2 separate regions of the Homo sapiens genome follow, and region 2 is linked to region 1. Evidence: fine-mapped expression QTL. A gene starts in region 1. The other region holds a variant in brackets. All regions are shown on one strand. Distances are between the middles of the regions.

The links.
Region 2: its variant is fine-mapped to the expression of ZNF37A in lymphoblastoid cells (GTEx, PIP 0.93).

Annotation. Positions count from the first base shown.
Region 1 is chr10:38,089,704-38,099,070 of GRCh38, forward strand. It overlaps ZNF37A (zinc finger protein 37A), which reads left to right and starts at 4,634. Exons shown (of 8, transcript NM_001324250.3): 1 at 4,634-4,787; 2 at 5,228-5,521; 3 at 5,835-5,926; 4 at 6,041-6,101; 5 at 6,871-6,929. The coding sequence starts at 6,915. It also overlaps the pseudogene FXYD6P2. RefSeq lists an enhancer at 4,588-4,777.
Region 2 is chr10:38,667,326-38,676,692 of GRCh38, forward strand. It overlaps the pseudogene SLC9B1P3. Among named protein-coding and RNA genes, the nearest start is that of LINC00999, 240 kb to the left of the region's middle. The variant C/T (reference allele first, on the strand shown) is at 3,433.

The DNA of each region.
Region 1 (9,367 bases):
ACAAGTAATCACAAGGCAGAAGATATTTTCCCTTTGCTTCTGAACTGCTTTTGGTGGCAATGATACAAATACAAATTGTGGTTGATGTTTGCATAAGGGCACAGACATGCTTGGTCCAAGCTGAAGTAAAGATTCCAAGTTGTGGACCGTCCTGCCCACATTCTGCATCATGATGTCAAAATAGCATCTGATGTTCTTTGCATTTTCATTGAAGTAATTATCACAAAATTGTTCTCTTACTTCAGCATTTACACTATTAGAATTGAGTGATTAAAGGATTGTGTGATTTTTTTTTTGGCATTCGATATTCTTCATTTCCTTTGCAGTTAGAAACTCATTGGCTCCTGTAACTAACACAGTTGATAAAGTTGTTAGTTTACGTAAAGTCTTGAAATAATAATTTTAATTTTCAAGAAAAGACTCCAAAATTTTTGTTTACTTTAAAAATACTCCATTGAGTGAAGTTTACTTGTTTTTTATTCATAGTTTTTTTTTTTCACTAGGAAACAAATATTTTATTCCTTTTTTCTGTTGCTCAGAGGACAGATCGTGATACAGAAAACAGCAGTCTAGCCACAGAGGCTGGGTTTGGTTGATTTCCACAGGCACATGGAGGACAGGAATGGTGGGATCCGGTTTGAGCTCCCAGTCTCATTATGACTTTTGACCTCTTCCTGTACCCTCTGCAGCAGTGCAGCATGGAGCCTACTGGGTCTCTAACCTACTTAACTCACCTCTGTGACCACTGAGGATGCGGGAGTTGTCTCTGCTGACCAAGGGGACATGGGCAGAGAAGCAAAGGCCCCTTACTCTCCCTCTGTCCATTCCAGTGTGCTGGCCGCAACAGAATGGGAATCCTTCAGTCATCACCTGCTGGAGACTCAGCTTCAGGGATGGGAGCCTGTGTCCAGAAAAACTGGGCTATAGATTGAAGTCTCAGAAGCAGGAAGGTTGGAGATGGGTGGGGCACCAGAGCCCCTGTGGTTATTGCTGATAAGATATGCAGGGGCTACATTCCCCAAGTGTAGATTATTAGTCCTGGGCCCAGGCTGGGCACGGTGGCTGACACCTGTAATCCCAGAATTTTGGGAGGCCTAGGCAGGTGGATTGCTTGAGGCCAGGGAAAACCCCATCTCTACTAAAAATACAAAAATTAGCTGGGCATGGTGGTGCGTGCCTATAGTCCCAGCTACTCGGGAGGCCCAGGCATGAGAATCCCTTGAACCCATGTTGCCATGAGCTGAGATCGTGCCACTGCATTCCGGCTTGGGTGACACAGTGGGACTCTGTCTGAATAAAGAAAAAGAAAAAAAGCAGCAGCCCTGGGCCTGGAATCCCTGGGTGCTATGTGAAAGGCAGGGCAGATGGGGCTCCCTGGGGCTTCCCCAGGGAGAAAAATAACCATGGAAGGGTATAGTAGCCTCCTGAAGGTAATGCCGGGCTCACAAACTCCTTGCTTTGCTTTGTATCTCCAATTGCTGATCTTCAGAACAGACGGGTTGGAGTGGGATAAGGAAGTGAGGTTCTTGTAAAAGAAGTGAAGAGACTCCATGAAGAAAGATGAGGAAAGTGGTGCAAACCTTCCCAGGTCCCAAGACAGCTGGAGACTCCTGCCCATGCTCTAAAGGGAAGGAGCTAGACTCTCCAGGGAAAAAAGCAGACTCCCAGGAGTGAGAGGTGATGGGGGGCAGAGAGGAGCAGACGGCCACATGGCTCAGCCCCTGCCCAGGAAAGTGAGTCCACAGTTCACTAACTATAATCACCATGAACAAGTAGCCATGAACACTATAGTCAGCAAACACACACACAGACACATAACACGAGTTGGAGGAGCCTGCAGGCTGCAGTGGTGAGGCAAGAGATTAGTTGGATCATCAGGTGGAGGAATGGTGTTAGAGGGGACAGGGAAGGGCATGGCAGGACAAAAAAGTTCTTGGCTTCTCTTCTGGAAAGATTTGTTGCTGAAGTGGCTGTTTTCTTAAGCATCAATATTTGCATCTAAAAGTTCAAGCAGCTGCCTTCAGGTTCCGGAGGCTTCCCACTGGAGGGCTGCACTTCATTCAGCTCTCTGCTTTCTGGAGTTTTGCTGCATTTGCAGTGATGAGGTTCTCCACCTGGGCTTCCTCCTCCCCTGGGGTCCCGGGCTTCTGATTGAAACTCCACTTGCATCTGCAACCTAGGATAAGGAAGATCCCAACGGAGAAGAGGACCACAGCACATACCAACCCCTGAATCCTCAGGGTCTGTTAGTCATAATGAAAATGGTCAATTTCCTTCTCCTACTCAGCTGCACTGGCCATGACAATGAGGGCCAACAGGCTGCATAGGAATATCAGCACCACCTCCATGGTGCCTGCACAGCCAGTCCCCTTCCTGAGATGATCCCAGGAGGATGTGTCGAGTCCCAAGGAGCCTAAGAGTGGCATGTCCCTAGTTTTCAATCTCTTTAGGGATAGGATTATGCAAATTGAAAGAAGAGCAAACAATGTTACTGAAATAATCCATGGCATAATGGAACCTGAATGCATTAAAGAAATAATGGAGGGCAGGAGAGGTGGCTCACATCTGTAATCTCAGCACTTTGGCAGGCTGAGGCGGATGGATCAATTGAGGTCAGGAGTTTGAGACCAGCCTGGTCAATATGGTGAAACCTAGTCTCTACTAAAAACAGGAAAAATTAGCTGGGCGTGGTGGCATGTGCCTGTAATCCCAGCTACTGGGGAGGCTGAGGCAGGAGAATCACTTGAATCTGGGAGGCGGAGGTTGCAGTGACCCGAGGTCTTGGCACTGCACTGCAGCCCAGGTGACAGAATGAGATCCAGTCTAAAAAAAAAAAAAAAAAGAAATAATGGAATATTCACAAGTGTCAAGACTGTTTCTTAAAATGCAAAAGCATTAGGCTGGGTGCAGTGGCTCATGCCTGTAATCCCAGCACTTTGGGAGGCCGAAGCGGGCGGATCACGAGGTCAGGAGTTCGAGACCAGCCTGGCCAACACAGTGAAACCCGATCTCTACTAAAATTACAAAAATTAGCCGGGTGTGGTGGCACAAGCCTGTAGTCCCAGCTACTTGGGACGCTGAGGCAGGAGAGTCGCTTGAACCCAGGAGGCGGAGGTTGCGGTGAGCCGAGATCATGTCACTGCACTCCAGCCTGGGTTACAGAGCCAGACTCCATCTCAAAAAAAAAAAAAAAAAAAAAAAACATTATGAGCAGGAAAATAAATTGTGTCTCGAAGTGATAATCATTGTTGTACTTACCATGACTGTCTTCTGAAATGCATCTCAACCCTTGAATAATTTGATTCTTTTACATGGATGGTACTAAATGCTTTTCCAGCATGGGAACAAGTGGGATTATCATCAGTGGTGGTAAAGAAGGGAATAGAAATGGAGAAAAATGCTTCTTTTTTGGTCAGTGGACATTTATTTTTTATTTTTATTTTAACTTAAACTTCAATAGCTTTTGGAGTACAAGTGGTTTTTGGTTATGGATGAATTATAAAGTGGTGGATTCTGAGATTTTAGTGCACCTGTCACCTGAGTAGTGTACACTGTACCTAATGTATAGTTTTTTTTTTTTCATTTTTGAGATGGAGTTTTGCTCTTGTTGCCCAAGCTGAAGTGCAATGGCGCGATTTCAGCTCACTACAACCTCCACCTCTCGAGTTCAAGGGATTCCCCTGCCTCAGCCTCCCAAATAGCTGGGACTGCAGGTGTGTGCCACCACGCCCAGCTAATTTTGTAGTTTTAGTGGAGACGGGGTTTCACCGTGTTACCTAGGCTGGTCTTGAACTCCTGACTTCGTGATCCACCCGCCTCCGCCTCCCAAAGTGCTGAGACTACAGGCGTGAGCCACCGCGCCTGGCCATGTGTAGTTTTTTTAACCTCCGGCCTCCTTCCTACCAGCCCCTTCTGAGTCTCTAAAGTCCATTATATCACTCTGTATGCCTCTGCGTACTCATAGCTTAGCTCCCACTTATAAGTGAGAACCTACGGTTTTTGGTTTTCCACTCCTGTATTACCTCTGCCTGTGAACTTTAAAAAGTTATCGTGATCAAGAGATCCTGCATACTCCTGAAGAATGGAAAATGCATGTTTGCCATGCAAGATGGTATTACGTGGTTTAACAAATAAAATTTGAAGAGCAATTCCGAGTTATCTTTACGACAGCTTACAGGCTGGTAATGCTCATGTCCAGCGTGTTTTCTCACGGTTAGCGTCCAATGGACCAGAAAGGAGCAAGTGAAGCTCTCCACACTGGCGCAAGTGTAGGTGGTGCTGCGGCAGCGTCGCGGGGCCACAGGAACCGACCTCGTCTGGAGAAATTCCACTCGTGAATTCTGCCAAATGAGGAAGTGTTGAGGACGGCCAAATCATCAGGGGGATGTAATTCATGAGAAAGCTGTGTAATTTAAATACTCATAATTTATTTCAGCTAACGAATAAAACTGCAGTACTGCACTTGCCGCATCTGGGAACTAACTGCCCAATGCGGCTGAAACCTCATGCCCTTTCAAAAGGAGTGGCGCGAGGGCTTGTGGGAAATGTAGTCTGCACTTTCTAAGGGAGCGGCGCGAGGGCTTGTGGGAAATGAAGCGTGCACTTTCTAAGGGAGCGGCGCGAGGACTTGTGGGAGATGTAGTGTGCACTTTTCGGCCCCCGTCGCGGGAGCCGCTTCGGGCCTTCTGGGCATGTCTGCCATATGGCTCCAGGTTTGTTTTTCTCCCCGGCACTCTGACGGGGAGGGCTCCCGGCATCTCCTGGCGTCCGGGTAGAGGACGCGGAGGGTGAGTAAGGGAGGGCAGGGGCGAGGGTGGACTGGGGGTTCCGCGCGGCCTGGGGGTGGGAGAGAGGGAACGCCTTTGCCGCCTGGCCTGGGTCCGAATCCTGCCTCGGTTCTTGTGCTCCCAAAGGGAATGCGCAAGTCCCGCGCCTGTGACAAGTGAGGTTGGATTTTCTCTTCCCTGAGGTGAAGGATGCCCGGAGGCCTCCGCAGGACGGCGCAGAAACGGGCCTTCTGCCCAATAGATGCGCGCTTCTCTCATTCTTTCCCCTCAGAATCTCGCTGTCCTCACAACCACCTGTGGTCGGCGTCGCCGCGGTGTCACTGCGATGCCGAGGCGAATGGGGTGGGGGGAAGCGCCCGCGGGGCGGGGAGGGACCCTGCAGGCGCGGACTCCACACCCAGCCTCTGGCCAGCGTCACTCGGCTTGCTGTGTCCTCGCAGGTCGCAGCTTCATTGCCTGATGTCTTCGGGAAGTATTTTGAAGTCATCGTGGCTGTGGATTGGGGAATTTCTTGTTTCCACTGACCTGTGAGGCCGCGCACGCGGAGGGAGGCACCCCAGGCCCTCCGGCACTGTCCAGCCTCGCCTGTGTCCCCATTAGCACCAGTGGGCATTTTCAGAGGGTCCAGCTCATGGCTCAAGTGACAGGAAGATGTAGGAGCTTTCTGTCTTGAATGAGGATTCGAACCAAAGGGCTTAGGCCCAGCTGTCTTGGAGCAAAGCAGCTGTTGTGGGGTAAGAAGGGAAGGGTGGGGGGCGAGGGCCCAGGGGCCCTCCTAGGAGGACACCCAACCCGTTGGGCTGACACCTCACTAGAGATCTAGAGCACGGGTGGGAGGAGCAGAGGCTCGATTTGTGTCCTTTCCAGACCCCCACAGGCTGGGAGCTTTGTGCCCATTCAGATGTGGGGGCAGAAGAGGGCAAGGCCGAAGGAGCAGACAGCACCGCTTCTTGGGGAGTTGTGAAGGCATCATGCGGAGGGAAGAGCTTAGCAGCCAAGTGGAGGACAGCACCCTCCATGCCTGGATTCGTTACTCGCTCGTTCTAGATGCTGAGCTGCTGGCGCACTGCAGCACAACTAGAGATGTACGGATGCCCCCATCTTGATCTTACAGAATCAGAGGTACAGCCGCGAGAAAGGTCTGTAAGTTATCTATTTACGCTTTATTTAAAAGATGGGATGGGGTGGGGTGGACAGGAAACGAGCTTAACGTGTTAAGTTACTGATGACATTGACACATTTTGTTGTGGCAGAGTCAAGAACAGACAGAGTCGCTTGAGGACTCAGGAGGGTGTTTGCTGCGTTGACAACAGAGTAAGTAAAAATCAGTTTGCTTTTTTAAATCCAAAGATTGTTTTGAGAACCTCAAATCAAGTTAGAGCAAGTTCGTTTTCCTTCCAAAAAAACTGGGCTGGGCTGGGCACGGTGGTTCACGCCAGTAATCCCAGCACTTTGGGAGGCTGAGGGGGGTGGATCAAGAGGTCAGGAGTTCGAGACCAGCCTGGCCAACATGGTGAAACCCCGTCTCTACTAAAAATGCAAAAAATTAGCCGGGTGTGGTGGTGCGCACCTGTAGTCCCAGCGACTTGGGAGGCTGAGGCAGGAGGTTGCGGTGAGTCGAGATCATGCCATCGCACTCCAGCCTGGGCAACAAACAGGGCAGGACTCTGTCTCAAAAAAGCAAACAAACAAACAAAAAAAACTGGGCTGAAAAATACCACATCGCTTTTTTCAAAACCTTGTTGGGATTCTCTGGTTTGTAATAAAGATTAAAACCTGAGTATTTTTGTTTAGCATCAGTTTTAATGAAAGTATTATGTTCCACTCTTTGGCTTTTCCTAACTTGCTTAATTAGTTTAATATATCGGTTTGCATACTCTGTTAGAGTACAGCATAAATTGTTTTTAAGTCAGTAGAAAACAAACGTTTTTACATTTGAAAACTAATGAGTCCAAGCAGTACATAATCATGCCAGAGTCATGCATGGGCGTGTGAGTATCTCCCTTTCAGAGATGTTTTGCCGGCTGCGAAGTGGACCTTTTAAGGCAAGTGACATCACTCATGATCTTTTCTTATTTCTCAGCTACACCCTCACAGTTTGCTCTGCTCTTCCAACACCAGTGGAAGATGATCACATCCCAGGTAAGTTGTTTATTTTTTCACCGTTTTGCTTAAAAGTAATTATTGAGGTTTAAAAAATGTCTATACATTCATATGAAAGTAGAAATAACATCAGGGAAAATATAGAGGAGAGGTCACATTACATTTCATGGGTCAAATGCAGCCTGCCGCATGTTTTTTTATGGTCCACAAACGAAGGATGGTTTTTATATTTTTAGGTGGCTGAGGGAAAAAAAACAAGAATTATATGAAATTCAGATTTCATTATATATAAAGTTTTATTGGGACTCAGCTATACTCATGTATTTATGTGTTGTCTGTTGGTACTTTCATACTATGAGGGCAGAGTTGACTGGTTGCAGCAGAGACTGTAATGGCCCACAAGCCTAAAATATTTACTGTGAGACCCTTTACAGAAAATGTTTGCTGATTTCTGATAAAGAGTTGATGAAGAGTAAAACAAAAATGTCATGTAAGTGAATGCAGATCTTGTGATCTCACAGAGTTGTGAAACTGGAACATAAAACAGTTTGTCAATGGGCTTTATTAGGTGACACTGTGAAACTTCTGATGACAATCTTGCAGTTACATGAAAAAGTAGTACAACGAAGTGAATAATTCATGTGCAGTCCAGGGGAAAACTTAAGCGATATCAAGAGAAAGTATGTGATTAAAAAATTCAAATAGGCCGGGCTAGGTGGCTCATGCCTATAATCCCAACACTTTGGGAGGGCGAGGTGGGTGGATCATGAGGTCAGGAGTCCGAGACCAGCCTGACCAACATGGTGAAACCCCGTCTCTACTAAAAATACAAAAATTAGCTTGGCATGTTGGCGTGCACCTGTAATCCCAGCTAGTCAGGAGGCTGAGGCAGGAGAATCGCTTGAACCCAGGAGGCGGAGGGTGCAGTGAGCCGAGATTGAGATTGCACCACTGCACTCCAGCCTGGGTGACAGAGTGAGACTCTGTCTCAAAAAAAAAAAAAAAAAAAAAAAAAAAAAAATCACATGAATTGTGTAGCATTAGGACTTATGGTTGTTTAAAGAAACAGTCCTGGTAGGCTAGGGTGATCATGGGTTGTTAGGATGTGGCAGGCTTTGTGACAGCCCTAGAGACTGGGCAGAACTGGAATATTTGCAATAACTTTCAAGAGATTCTACCTAAAAAAAAAATTATGGTAAAATACACATCACATGAAATTCACAATTAAGCCATTTTAAAGTATAGAATTCAATGACTTTAGTACGTTCACAATGTTGTACCACCATAACCACCATTTATTTCTGGAATATTTTCATCACACCAAAAGGAAACATAGTACCCTTAATAAGCAGTGTTGTAACTTAATAAGCAGTTGCTCCCTTTTTCCCCTCTGCTCCAGCCCCTAGCAACCAATAATCTCCTGTCTTTATAGATATGCCTGTTTTAGATATGGCATACAAATGGAATCATACAATTTGTAGCCTTTTGTGTCTGATCTCTCACTTAGAATAATGTTTTCAAGACCCATTTATGTTGTAGTTGTATATCAGTACTTTGTCCCTTTTTATGACTGAACAATATTCTATTATATGGATATACCAACTTTTGTTTATCCATTCATCTGTTGATGGACATTGGGGGTCATCCTGTGTTTCGCTATCGTGAATAGTGCTCCTATGAGCATTCATGTACAAATATTTGTTAGAATACATGCTCTCAGTTGTTCTGGGTATATACCTACGAGTGAAATTGCTGGGTCATATGGTAAGTTTACGTTTAATTTATTGTGAAACTGACAGTTTTCCACAGCAGGGTGCTTTGCAATCCATAGGAATTTTTAGTTAGCTTTTCTATTTCTGCAAAAAAGTATGTTGAGTTTTTGATAAGTATTGCATTGGGTAAGTATTGGAGTGGGTAATAACACTTTGGGGAGTGTTATCATCTTAATATTAAATCTTATAATCCATGAATGTAAGATTTTTTTCCCCTAGGTCTTCTTTCCTTCATTAATGTTTTGTAGTTTTCAGTGTACAAGTGTTGCATATCCTTGCTTAAATTTATTAGTTTTTCATTTAAATGCTATTGTAAATTATATGAAATTCAGACTTCAGTGTCTATAAAGTTTTATTGAGACTCAGCCATACTCATGTATTTATGTATAGTCTGTGGGTACTTTCACACTACGAGGGCAGAATTGACTGGTTGCAGTAGAGACTGTAATGGCCCATAAGCCTAAAATTTTTTTGTTTAAATGCTATTATAAGTGGAATTGTTAATTTGCTTTTTGACTGTGCACAACTAATTTTTGAGTGTTGATCTTGTATCCTGTAATTTTGCTGAATTTGTTTCCTACTTGTAGTAGTTCCTTTGTGGATACTTCAGTATTTTTTGCATATAAGATCATGTCATCTGCAAACGAAAATATTTTTATTTCTTTCCAATTTGGGTGTGTGTATTTATTTAGCCTAATTGCTGTG
Region 2 (9,367 bases), 580 kb after region 1:
AGTCAGGAAACAACAGGTGCTGGAGAGGATATGGAGAAATAGGAACGCTTTTACACTGTTGGTGGGAGTGTAAACTAGTTCAACCATTGTGAAAGACATTGTGGTGATTCCTCGAGGATCTAGAACTAGAATTACCATTTGACCCAGCAATCCTATTACTGGGTATATACCCAAAGGATTATAAATCATGCTACTATAAAGACACATGCACATGTATGTTTATTGCGGCACTATTAACAATAGCAAAGACTTGGAATCAACCCAAATGTCCATTAATGATGGACTGGATTAAGACATGTGACACATATACACCATGGAATACTATGCAGCCATAAAAAAGGATGAGTTCATGTCCTTTGCAGGGAGATAGAAGAAGCTGGAAACCATCATTCTCAGCAAAACTATCACAAGGACAGAAAACCAAACACCGCATGTTCTCACTCATAGATGGGAATTGAACAATGAGATCACTTGGACACAGGGCTGAGAACATCACACACTGGGGCTTGTTGAGGGGTGGAGGGCTGGGGGAGGGAGAGCATTAGGAGAAATACCTAATGTAAATGATGAGTTGATGGGTGCAGCAAACCAACATGGCACATGTATACCTATGTATCAAACCTGCACGTTGTGCACATGTACCCTAGAACTTAAGGTATAACAACAACAACAACAACAACAAACGTTTCTTCTACCAGATGTCCTCAGTCATCTCTCTCAATTTCAAAGTTCCATAAATCTGTAGGGCAGGGGCAAAATGCCACCAGTCTCTTTGCTAAAGCATAACAAGAGTGACCTTTACTTCAGTTCCCAACAAGTTGTTCATCTCCATCTCGGACCTCCTCAGCCTGGACTTCACTGTCCACGTCACTATCAGCAGTTTGGTCAAAACCATTCAACAAGTCTCTAGGCAGTTACAAACTTTCCCACATCTTCTGGTCTACTTCTGAGTCCTGCCAACTGTTCCAAACTCTGCACATTACACAGTTCCAAAGTCACTTCCACATTCTCAGGTATCTTATAGCAATACTCCATTACCTCAGTATCAAAATCTGTATTAGTCATGGTTCTCTAGAGGGATAGAACTAATAGGATATATATATATATATGAAAGGGAGTTTATTAGGGAGAATTGAATCACACCATCACAATCGAAGTCCTACAACAGGCTGTCTGCAAGTTGAGGAACAAGGAATCTAGTATTGGCTCAGTCCGAGTCCCAACACCTCAAAAGTAGGGAAACCTACAGGCCAGCTTTGAGTCTCTGGATGAAGGCCTGAGAGCCCCTGGAAAACAACTGGAGTAAGTCCAAGAGTCCAAAAGCCAAAGAACCTGGAGTCTGATATTTGAGTGCAGGAAGCATCCAGCATGGGAGAAAGATGAGGGCAGAAGGCTCAGCAAGTCAGCTTCTTCTAACCTTCTTCTGCCTGCTTTATTCTAGCCATGCTGGCAGCTGATTGTATGGTGCCCACCCACACTGAGGGTGGATCTGCCTTTCCCAGTCCACTAAATAAATGTTAATCTCCTTTGGCAACACCCTCACAGACACAACCGGGAACAATACTTTGGATCCTTCAATCTAATCAAGTTGACACTTACTGAATATTAACCTTCACAATGTAATATTCATCCAATTTGTAACTTTTCTTTAATATACAAGCTCCTTGAGAACATGCACCATTTGATCTTGTCTCTCTGTTGTGTTGGGAGGCAGTGGAGAAGAGAAGAGTTAAATGTGTGGGTGTGGAGTGAAAGACTGTCAGATTTGCATCTTGGCTCCCCTACTTATTGGATCTCTGTCCTTGAGAAAATTACTTAACATTTTTCTCAGTTTCCTTACCTGTAAATGAGTGGTGACATATATGGAACTTAGAACAAGAGCCAAGCAAGTATTCAATAAAAGCTAATGTTGTTGCCTACTGTTTATTCTCAGTGTTTGGCATAGTAGCCGGCAAAAGGAAGAGGAATTTTTTTTTCTTTTTTTCAGACAGTCTCCCTCTGTCACCCAGGCTGGAGTGCAGTGGTGTGATCTTGGCTCACTGCAACCTCTGCCTCTTGGTTTCAAGCGATTCTTGTGCCTCAGCCCCCTGAGTAGCTGGGATTACAGGCCTGTGCCACCACACCCAGCTAACGTTTTGTATTTTTAGTAGAGATGGAGCTTTGCTATTTTGGCCAGGCTGGTCTTGAACTCATGTCCTCAAGTGATCCCCCCGCTTTGGCCTCCCAAAGTGTTGGGATTATAGGCATGAGCCATTGGGCCCAGCCTGGAAATATTTTTTTGAAACATGACTGATAACAATATTTTTTGAAAGAAAGACAGATACCAATCATGAAGGAAAACATTTTCACAATTGACAATAAAAAAACTTTAACTTCTGAATGGTAAAAAGAGTGAGAAAATTAAAAGCCAAATCACAAATTGAAAAAACTAAAGTATATAAAACAAAGGTTTTCATTCTCAATTTAATGCAGAATCTTGACAAATCAAAAAGAACAAAAGGTGAACCCACCAAAAGAAATAGGCAAAAAACTTTCAAGAAAAGCAATTTACAAAATGCCAATGACGAATAAACATGGATATTTAACAACACTAGTATTCAAAGTACTTCATTTATAGAGATCCCTCCTTCACCTATCAAATTAGCAAAGATGAAAAAGGCTAGTAATACCAAGTTTTGAAGAGAGGTGAGAGGAAATGACAAGTTTATGTACCCTGGTAGGATTTGATATTGTGGCAATATGTTTCAGAACACTCATAAATGTATATACCTTTTAGATCAACAATTACACTTTTAAGCTTAAGAAAATATGAAGATTAGGTACAAATATTTCCCTATATGTTCTTCTAAGTATTATTTTTTTAATTAAAAAAATTTTTTTGAGACAGAGTCTCGCTCTGTTGCCCAGGCTGGATAGCTCACTACAGCCTCCGCCTCCTGGGTTCAAGTGATTCTTCTGCTTCAGCCTCCTGAGTAGCTGGGATTACAGATGCCCACAACCGTGCCTGGCTAAGTTTTGTATTTTTAGTGGAGACGGGGTTTCACCATGTTCGTTGGCCAGGCTGGTCTTGAACTCCTGACCTCATGTGATCCACCCTTCTTGGCCTCCCAAAGTGCTGGGATTATATGTGTGAGCCACCATGCCCGGCCAATTTTTTAATTTAAAAAAATATTTTTATAGCAGCACAACTAAGTATTATTTTAATAGTAAATATTGGAGTTAACTTTAATTTTGAACAGGATAAGTAATCATGATGCAGCACATTGAATACTCTTTCATTAAGCTAAACAACTATTAAAAATGATATACAAATACATTTACTGAAAAGAAACATGTTTGTGATATACAGTTAAGTGTAAAACAATTCAGGTTATAAGAACATATTAGGCCGGGTGCGATGGCTCATGCCTGTAATCCCAGCACTTTGGGAGG[C/T]CAAGGCAGGAGGATCACGATGTCAGGAGATCAAGACCATCCTGGCTAACACGGTGAAACCCTGGCTCTACTAAAAATACAAAAAAAAATTAGCCAGGTGCGGTGGCGGGCGCCTGTAGTCCCAACTACTTGGGAGGTTGAGGCAGGAGAATGACATGAACCCAGGAGGCAGAGCATGCAGTGAGCCGAGATTGTGCCACTGCACTCCAACCTTGGTGACAGAGCAAGACTCCGCCTCAAAAAAAAAAATAAAAGAACATATTGGTCAATATTCACTAATTTTTATAAGAATATTTGACAGAGAGAGAGGGGTAACGGAAGGGAAGGGGGAGGGGAGGGGAAGGGAAGGGAAGGGAAGAAGGGAAAAAGGGAAGGGAAGGGAATATGGGTGGATTTATATCAAAAGGTTCAGAAGGAAATGATTCTTTTCTTCTGGATGTGACTATTGCAGATTTTTTTAACTTTTCCTCTTTTTCTTATTTATTTATATTTTCTTATTTTAAGAGAAACTATAAAACTATATATATTACTTTTCAACTTAAAAATAGTTTAGTGCTTCAATAATACAGAAGACTCAAACATTGCAGATAATTAAAGCATTACTAAATGTGGAAATGTTTAGTTTCACAATTTCTGTAGTGATATTCAAGACCAGATATCACCTTGGGAATCAGAACTGGTGCAGGATCTTGTCCTAACACTACCAAAAAGGCATATGGCTGTCCCAGCTCTGTATGTTTATATTGTCTTATAATAGAGCAACCAGTTGTTTATTAGGATGGCCAAAAAGGCACATTTCAAAAATGCCTATTAAAATATTAGTAGTACAAATAATACTGCTGCTTAATTTTTTCTAATGAGAACTGATAAAATTCAAAAGCAACATAAGCATATAAATAGTAATAATATGGTGTATCAAATTAATTGTCACATGATTATTAAAGTGAGATCATGTGTGTTAAGTAGTGGTATCTTAAGCCACTGAAATATCTTCCTTGGTCTGGAATGAGCTTTCTATGGAGATTAAAAAGATGTTAAATTGAACAGTCTTGGTTAATAAATGAAGAAGCAAAGCCAGAAACCCTGTTTAAAGAACTAACAAAAAAGGTCATGAATGATCTGGTGGTTGTTATATTTTCTTGTTTACCCGAGAAGAAGACTATGCTCAAGCATGTATTGAATCCAGTGATAGCCAGAATGTCATCCATACTGCTAGCAGCCATTAGTAGGTTGGAATGTCTTCCTCAACACCATATCCATTTTCTTGCAACACCATCATGTAAAGGACAACAACAACAGGAGAGACAGCACCTAAAACAAAACTGAGAGAATGAAAATTAATTTAAAAGCATCTTTTTAATCAAGTAGTGTTTATAAGTACAAGTAGTTTATAATAAATTTATAACAAACATTGTTTAGAAGAATTTCAAATTTGAGTGAATGCAATTTAATGGTGATAAAACTTTTCATGCATGGTTTAGTGTTAGCTAAAATTTTATACAGACGTGGTTTAAAATGTTGGCCTGAGCACAGGTTGCAGCCTTTCCCTCTATTCCTAAATCCTTTGAAATGAAGATGTAAAGGTAATAGAAAAATTCATAACCTAACAAGAAAGCAAAAGGTGAATCATCAATGGACAAGAAACTAAGCATATGCCAGAAAGATAAGAGACAGACAATTTAGGATTGAAAAAAGGAAACCATAAACCAAAATGTGTGTAAATAAGATTGCCTCAAAAGATACATGTGCTTCTAAAAGTGGTCCAAGCCCTGAAATGACAGGTGCTGGGAGCAGGAGAGACCTCTGGGGAAACCAAATAGTTGATTATTTGGAGTACCACTGTAAGAATGGTCAGACAAATCTACCTTCCACACATTTCCTACCTCTCGAGTAAATAAGTAAGTAAGGAAGGAAGGAACAGAGTTGTCTGCCCAAAAAAACAAGTGTGGCCACCTAAGTTACAAAGGCAAATGAGAACATTTCTGGAGTGGTTGATGACACCCATGAGGAATGGGGAGGCTCCTGCTCAGAATACCTTCTATTGGCATATCTTATCCAGAATTTCACCCCATCTCTTCTACATTTACTTTATAAAGCGTGAAGTATATCCTGTGTAGAAATGCCTTTGGTGCTCCTGCCAGAATCCATTTACCAGGTCAATGAACACATCTCCCAGTGCTTCTTGTTGGCTGCTATTACCTGCAGGTTTCTAGAACCCTTGTCCTGCTGACAAGCACCTACTTGGGAATACTAGGGAGGTTGTGCACCCCTCTATTTTCCCTCCAGACAGCATCTGCCAATGACGGACTGATGTGAGATTTGCTTCTGGCTGTACAACTCTATGGTGCAGTTTATGCTACAGATTTCCCTGTGGGCTCAAGAAGAGACTAGACTTCTCTAAGACCACATACTGGTCTAGTTCAGTGGTTCCTGAGCTCTGCTGCACATTGTAATCACTTGTTGTATTATTTTTCTCATTTTGCTTAACAAGTCATCCCCAAACATAGCAGCTTAAAACAACAAATATTTATTGTCTTATGACTTCTGTGGGTCAGGAATCTGGGCATGGCTTAGCTGTATGCCTTGACTTAAGATTTCCCATGAGGTAGGGTGGGGTGGAGAAGATCTGCTTCCAAGTTTACTCATGTAGCCATTGCAGGCTTCAGTTTTTTCCAACGGGGTTTTCTCCACAGGGCTGCCTCAGGACATGGCAGCTGGCTTCCCCAGGAATAAGTGATCAAAGAGAATTTAATCCACAACATCAATTACAAACACAAAGTGTCTAAGAACAAAACTGTGAAGACAGTCTATACTTTTATAAAAATTGTGAATCTAATAATATAGTAATTAAGATAATACCTGAATACTTAGAGAGACATTTCACAAGTGTGAACTAAAAAGCCCCAATTTTACCATCACCCAACACCACGCCTGGCTAGTTTTTGTGTTTTTAGTAGATACAGTGTTTCACCATTTTGGCCAGGCTGGTCTTGAACTCCTGACCTCAAGTGATATGCCTGCCTTGGCCTCCCAAACTGCTGGGATTATAGGTGTGAGCCACCACGCCTGGCCAAAGCCTCAATAATATAAAGATGTAATCTCTCCCCCAAATGAATTAATCAGAGATACACCAATCAAAATCTTTGCAGGGATTTTTACTGAGCTTGACAAGCTGATTATAAAATTCATTTGGAAGAATAAGATCTTAGAATGAAAGATCAAGTAAACTTAAGAAAACAAGATACTGTTTTTGTAAAGGTAAAATAGTTAAAACTGAATAATAGTGACATATAAATAGACAAAATAAATTGGAAGAAAAGAGAATACAAAGTGTGGAAACAAATCTATGGGATTTGTTACATCATACAATTTGTATTTTAAATCGGTGGGAGAAAGAAAGAAATCTTTCACAAACGGTGCTGAGATAACTATTTATGTGGAAAGGAATATAGATCGATCCTTAAACATAATAAATGTTAAAAGCTCAAAAGGAAAAGTAGTAATAAGAAAATGTAGTGGGCTAGGCATGATGGCTCACACCTGTAATCCCAGCACTTTGGGAGGCTGAGGTGGACAGATCAGGAATCTGAGACCAGCCTGGCCAACATGGTGAAACCAATAGCTGGGTGCAGTGGTGCATGCTTGTAGTCCCAGCTACTTGGGAGGTTGAGGCAGGAGAATGACTTGAACCTGGGAGGTGGAGGTTGCAGTAAGCTGAGGTCATGCCACTGCACTACAGCCTGGGTGACAGCAAGACTCTGAACAACAACAAAAAAAGATGTAGAATAATATATTTGTGATCATGAGGTAAAAAGGACCTTTTGAATGATACATACAAAGGCATTAGACATAAAAAGAGATTTTGATACATTCAATTATATTAAAGTAGTACTTCAAAAGTACTATAATAAAGTACTACTTCAAAAGCAATTCTGCTCTTTCTTCCCCTTTTACTCTTTTTCATTTTCAAAGTCAAGTGAACAGTGCTGTGTATTGGCAATTCTGTCTGTTGAAAATAACAAAATACACTTCTTAGAGTGAAAAAAAATCATCACAAACAAAATTAAATATCTACTGATATTTGCAATACATATAATTTACAAATGCATATAACAGATATAATTAATAAAGAAGATCAACTCAACAAAAAAATGGACAAAGGATATGAACAGGCTAGTTACAGATAAGGAAAAGCTGAAGGACAACACATATATAAAAGATATTCAAGCTTGTGAATAATCACAGAAATGCAAATTAAAATAACAAAAATATGCCATTTTTTCAATTATCAGACTGGAAAACATTATAAAATTTAATAATATCAAAGATTTGCAAGGATTTTCAAGAACATCAGGTAGGCTCATAAGCTATTGGTATTGGGGCAAATTAAAGTGGCCATACTGAAAGGATTTTGGCAGTATACATCAAACTAAAAATGCATGTAACCCAGGTAACTATTCTAGACAAACTTATATTTATGTAAAATGAGACAAATAAAATGCTATTTTTGTTATAACATTGTAAATAAAATCTGCTGTTGACATACAATGTAATCTTATACAATTAAAAGGAATAAACTACATATGTATCTATCTTGAGATGGATAAACTTCAAGACTATTGTTGAATGAAAAGAACAAATTGTAAAGTAAAATTTTCTTGGGTATGATTAAGTAAAAGTGCACAAAATAATACTCTTTTTTTCTCTGGGTTCACAAATACATTTGTTAGAAGTCCAGAACATTATTTTTAAAGATCTAGAATGATAACATAAAACTCATGAAGATGCTGCCACTCTGTCTCCAGCAGCACATGAGTGCTCCCCACAGCACCATTGCCCCGGCTGGCACGTGTAAGTATGCAGAACACCCCATCCCACTCCTGCCGGCACTGCACCCCTGCCAACACAAGCATACCTGCTCTGTGCTGCTGCTGCTGGCACATATGTGTGAGTGGGGACCTTGCTACAATCACTACAATGAAGCACTTTGGCTGACACACCCCATCAGAGTGTTGTTGCCAGTGGACTGGGAACACCTCAGTGCTTAACACTGAAGGGCCAGACAACAAAACTGTGGGTATGGTACCAGCCTTGCAAAGTTAGAGCATGCAGTTCAGGAGTGCTGAGCTGAGCCTTTGTCCCCTGAAATCTTCCAGAAATGAATCCATTTGACTGAAACTACCTTGTGCCACAGTCAAACCCTCAAGGGCATTAAAGAATATAAAAAAGGAAAAAACTCCATCCAAAGGACAGTGATTCAAAACATTAAAGGAACTTTAGCCCACACAGATGTGAAAGAACCAGTGCAAGAACTCTGGCAATGTAAAAAGCCAGAATGTCTTCCTGTCTTCAAGCAATCATACTAACTCTCCAACAATGGTTGTTAACCAGGATTAAATGACAGAATCTGGATAGAAACAAAGATCATTGAGATTCAGAAGAAAGTCAAAATCCAATCCAAATAATGTAAGGAATCCAATAAGATGACATAAGAGCTGAAAGATGAAATAGGCATTTTAAGAAAGAACCAAACTAAACTGATAGAGCTGAAAAATGCACCTCAAGAATTTCATAATACAATAACAAGTACTAACAGCAGAACGGACCAAGCTGAGGAAAGAATCTCAGATCTCAAAGACCACTTCTTTGAATCAACTCAGTCAGATGAAAATAAAGAACAAAAAAGAATGAACAAAACCTCTGAGAAATCTGAGATTATGTAAAGAGACCAAACATATGACTCAAGACATCACTCAAAGAAAGGGAGAAAGAACAAGCAAGTTGGAAAACGTATTTGAGGATACTGCCCAAAAAATTTCCCAAATCTTGCTAGAGAAGTCACCATTTGAATCCAGGAAATGCAGAGAATCCTGTGAGATACTATACAAGATGACCATCCTCAAGACAGAGAGTCATCAGATTCTCCAAGGTCAAC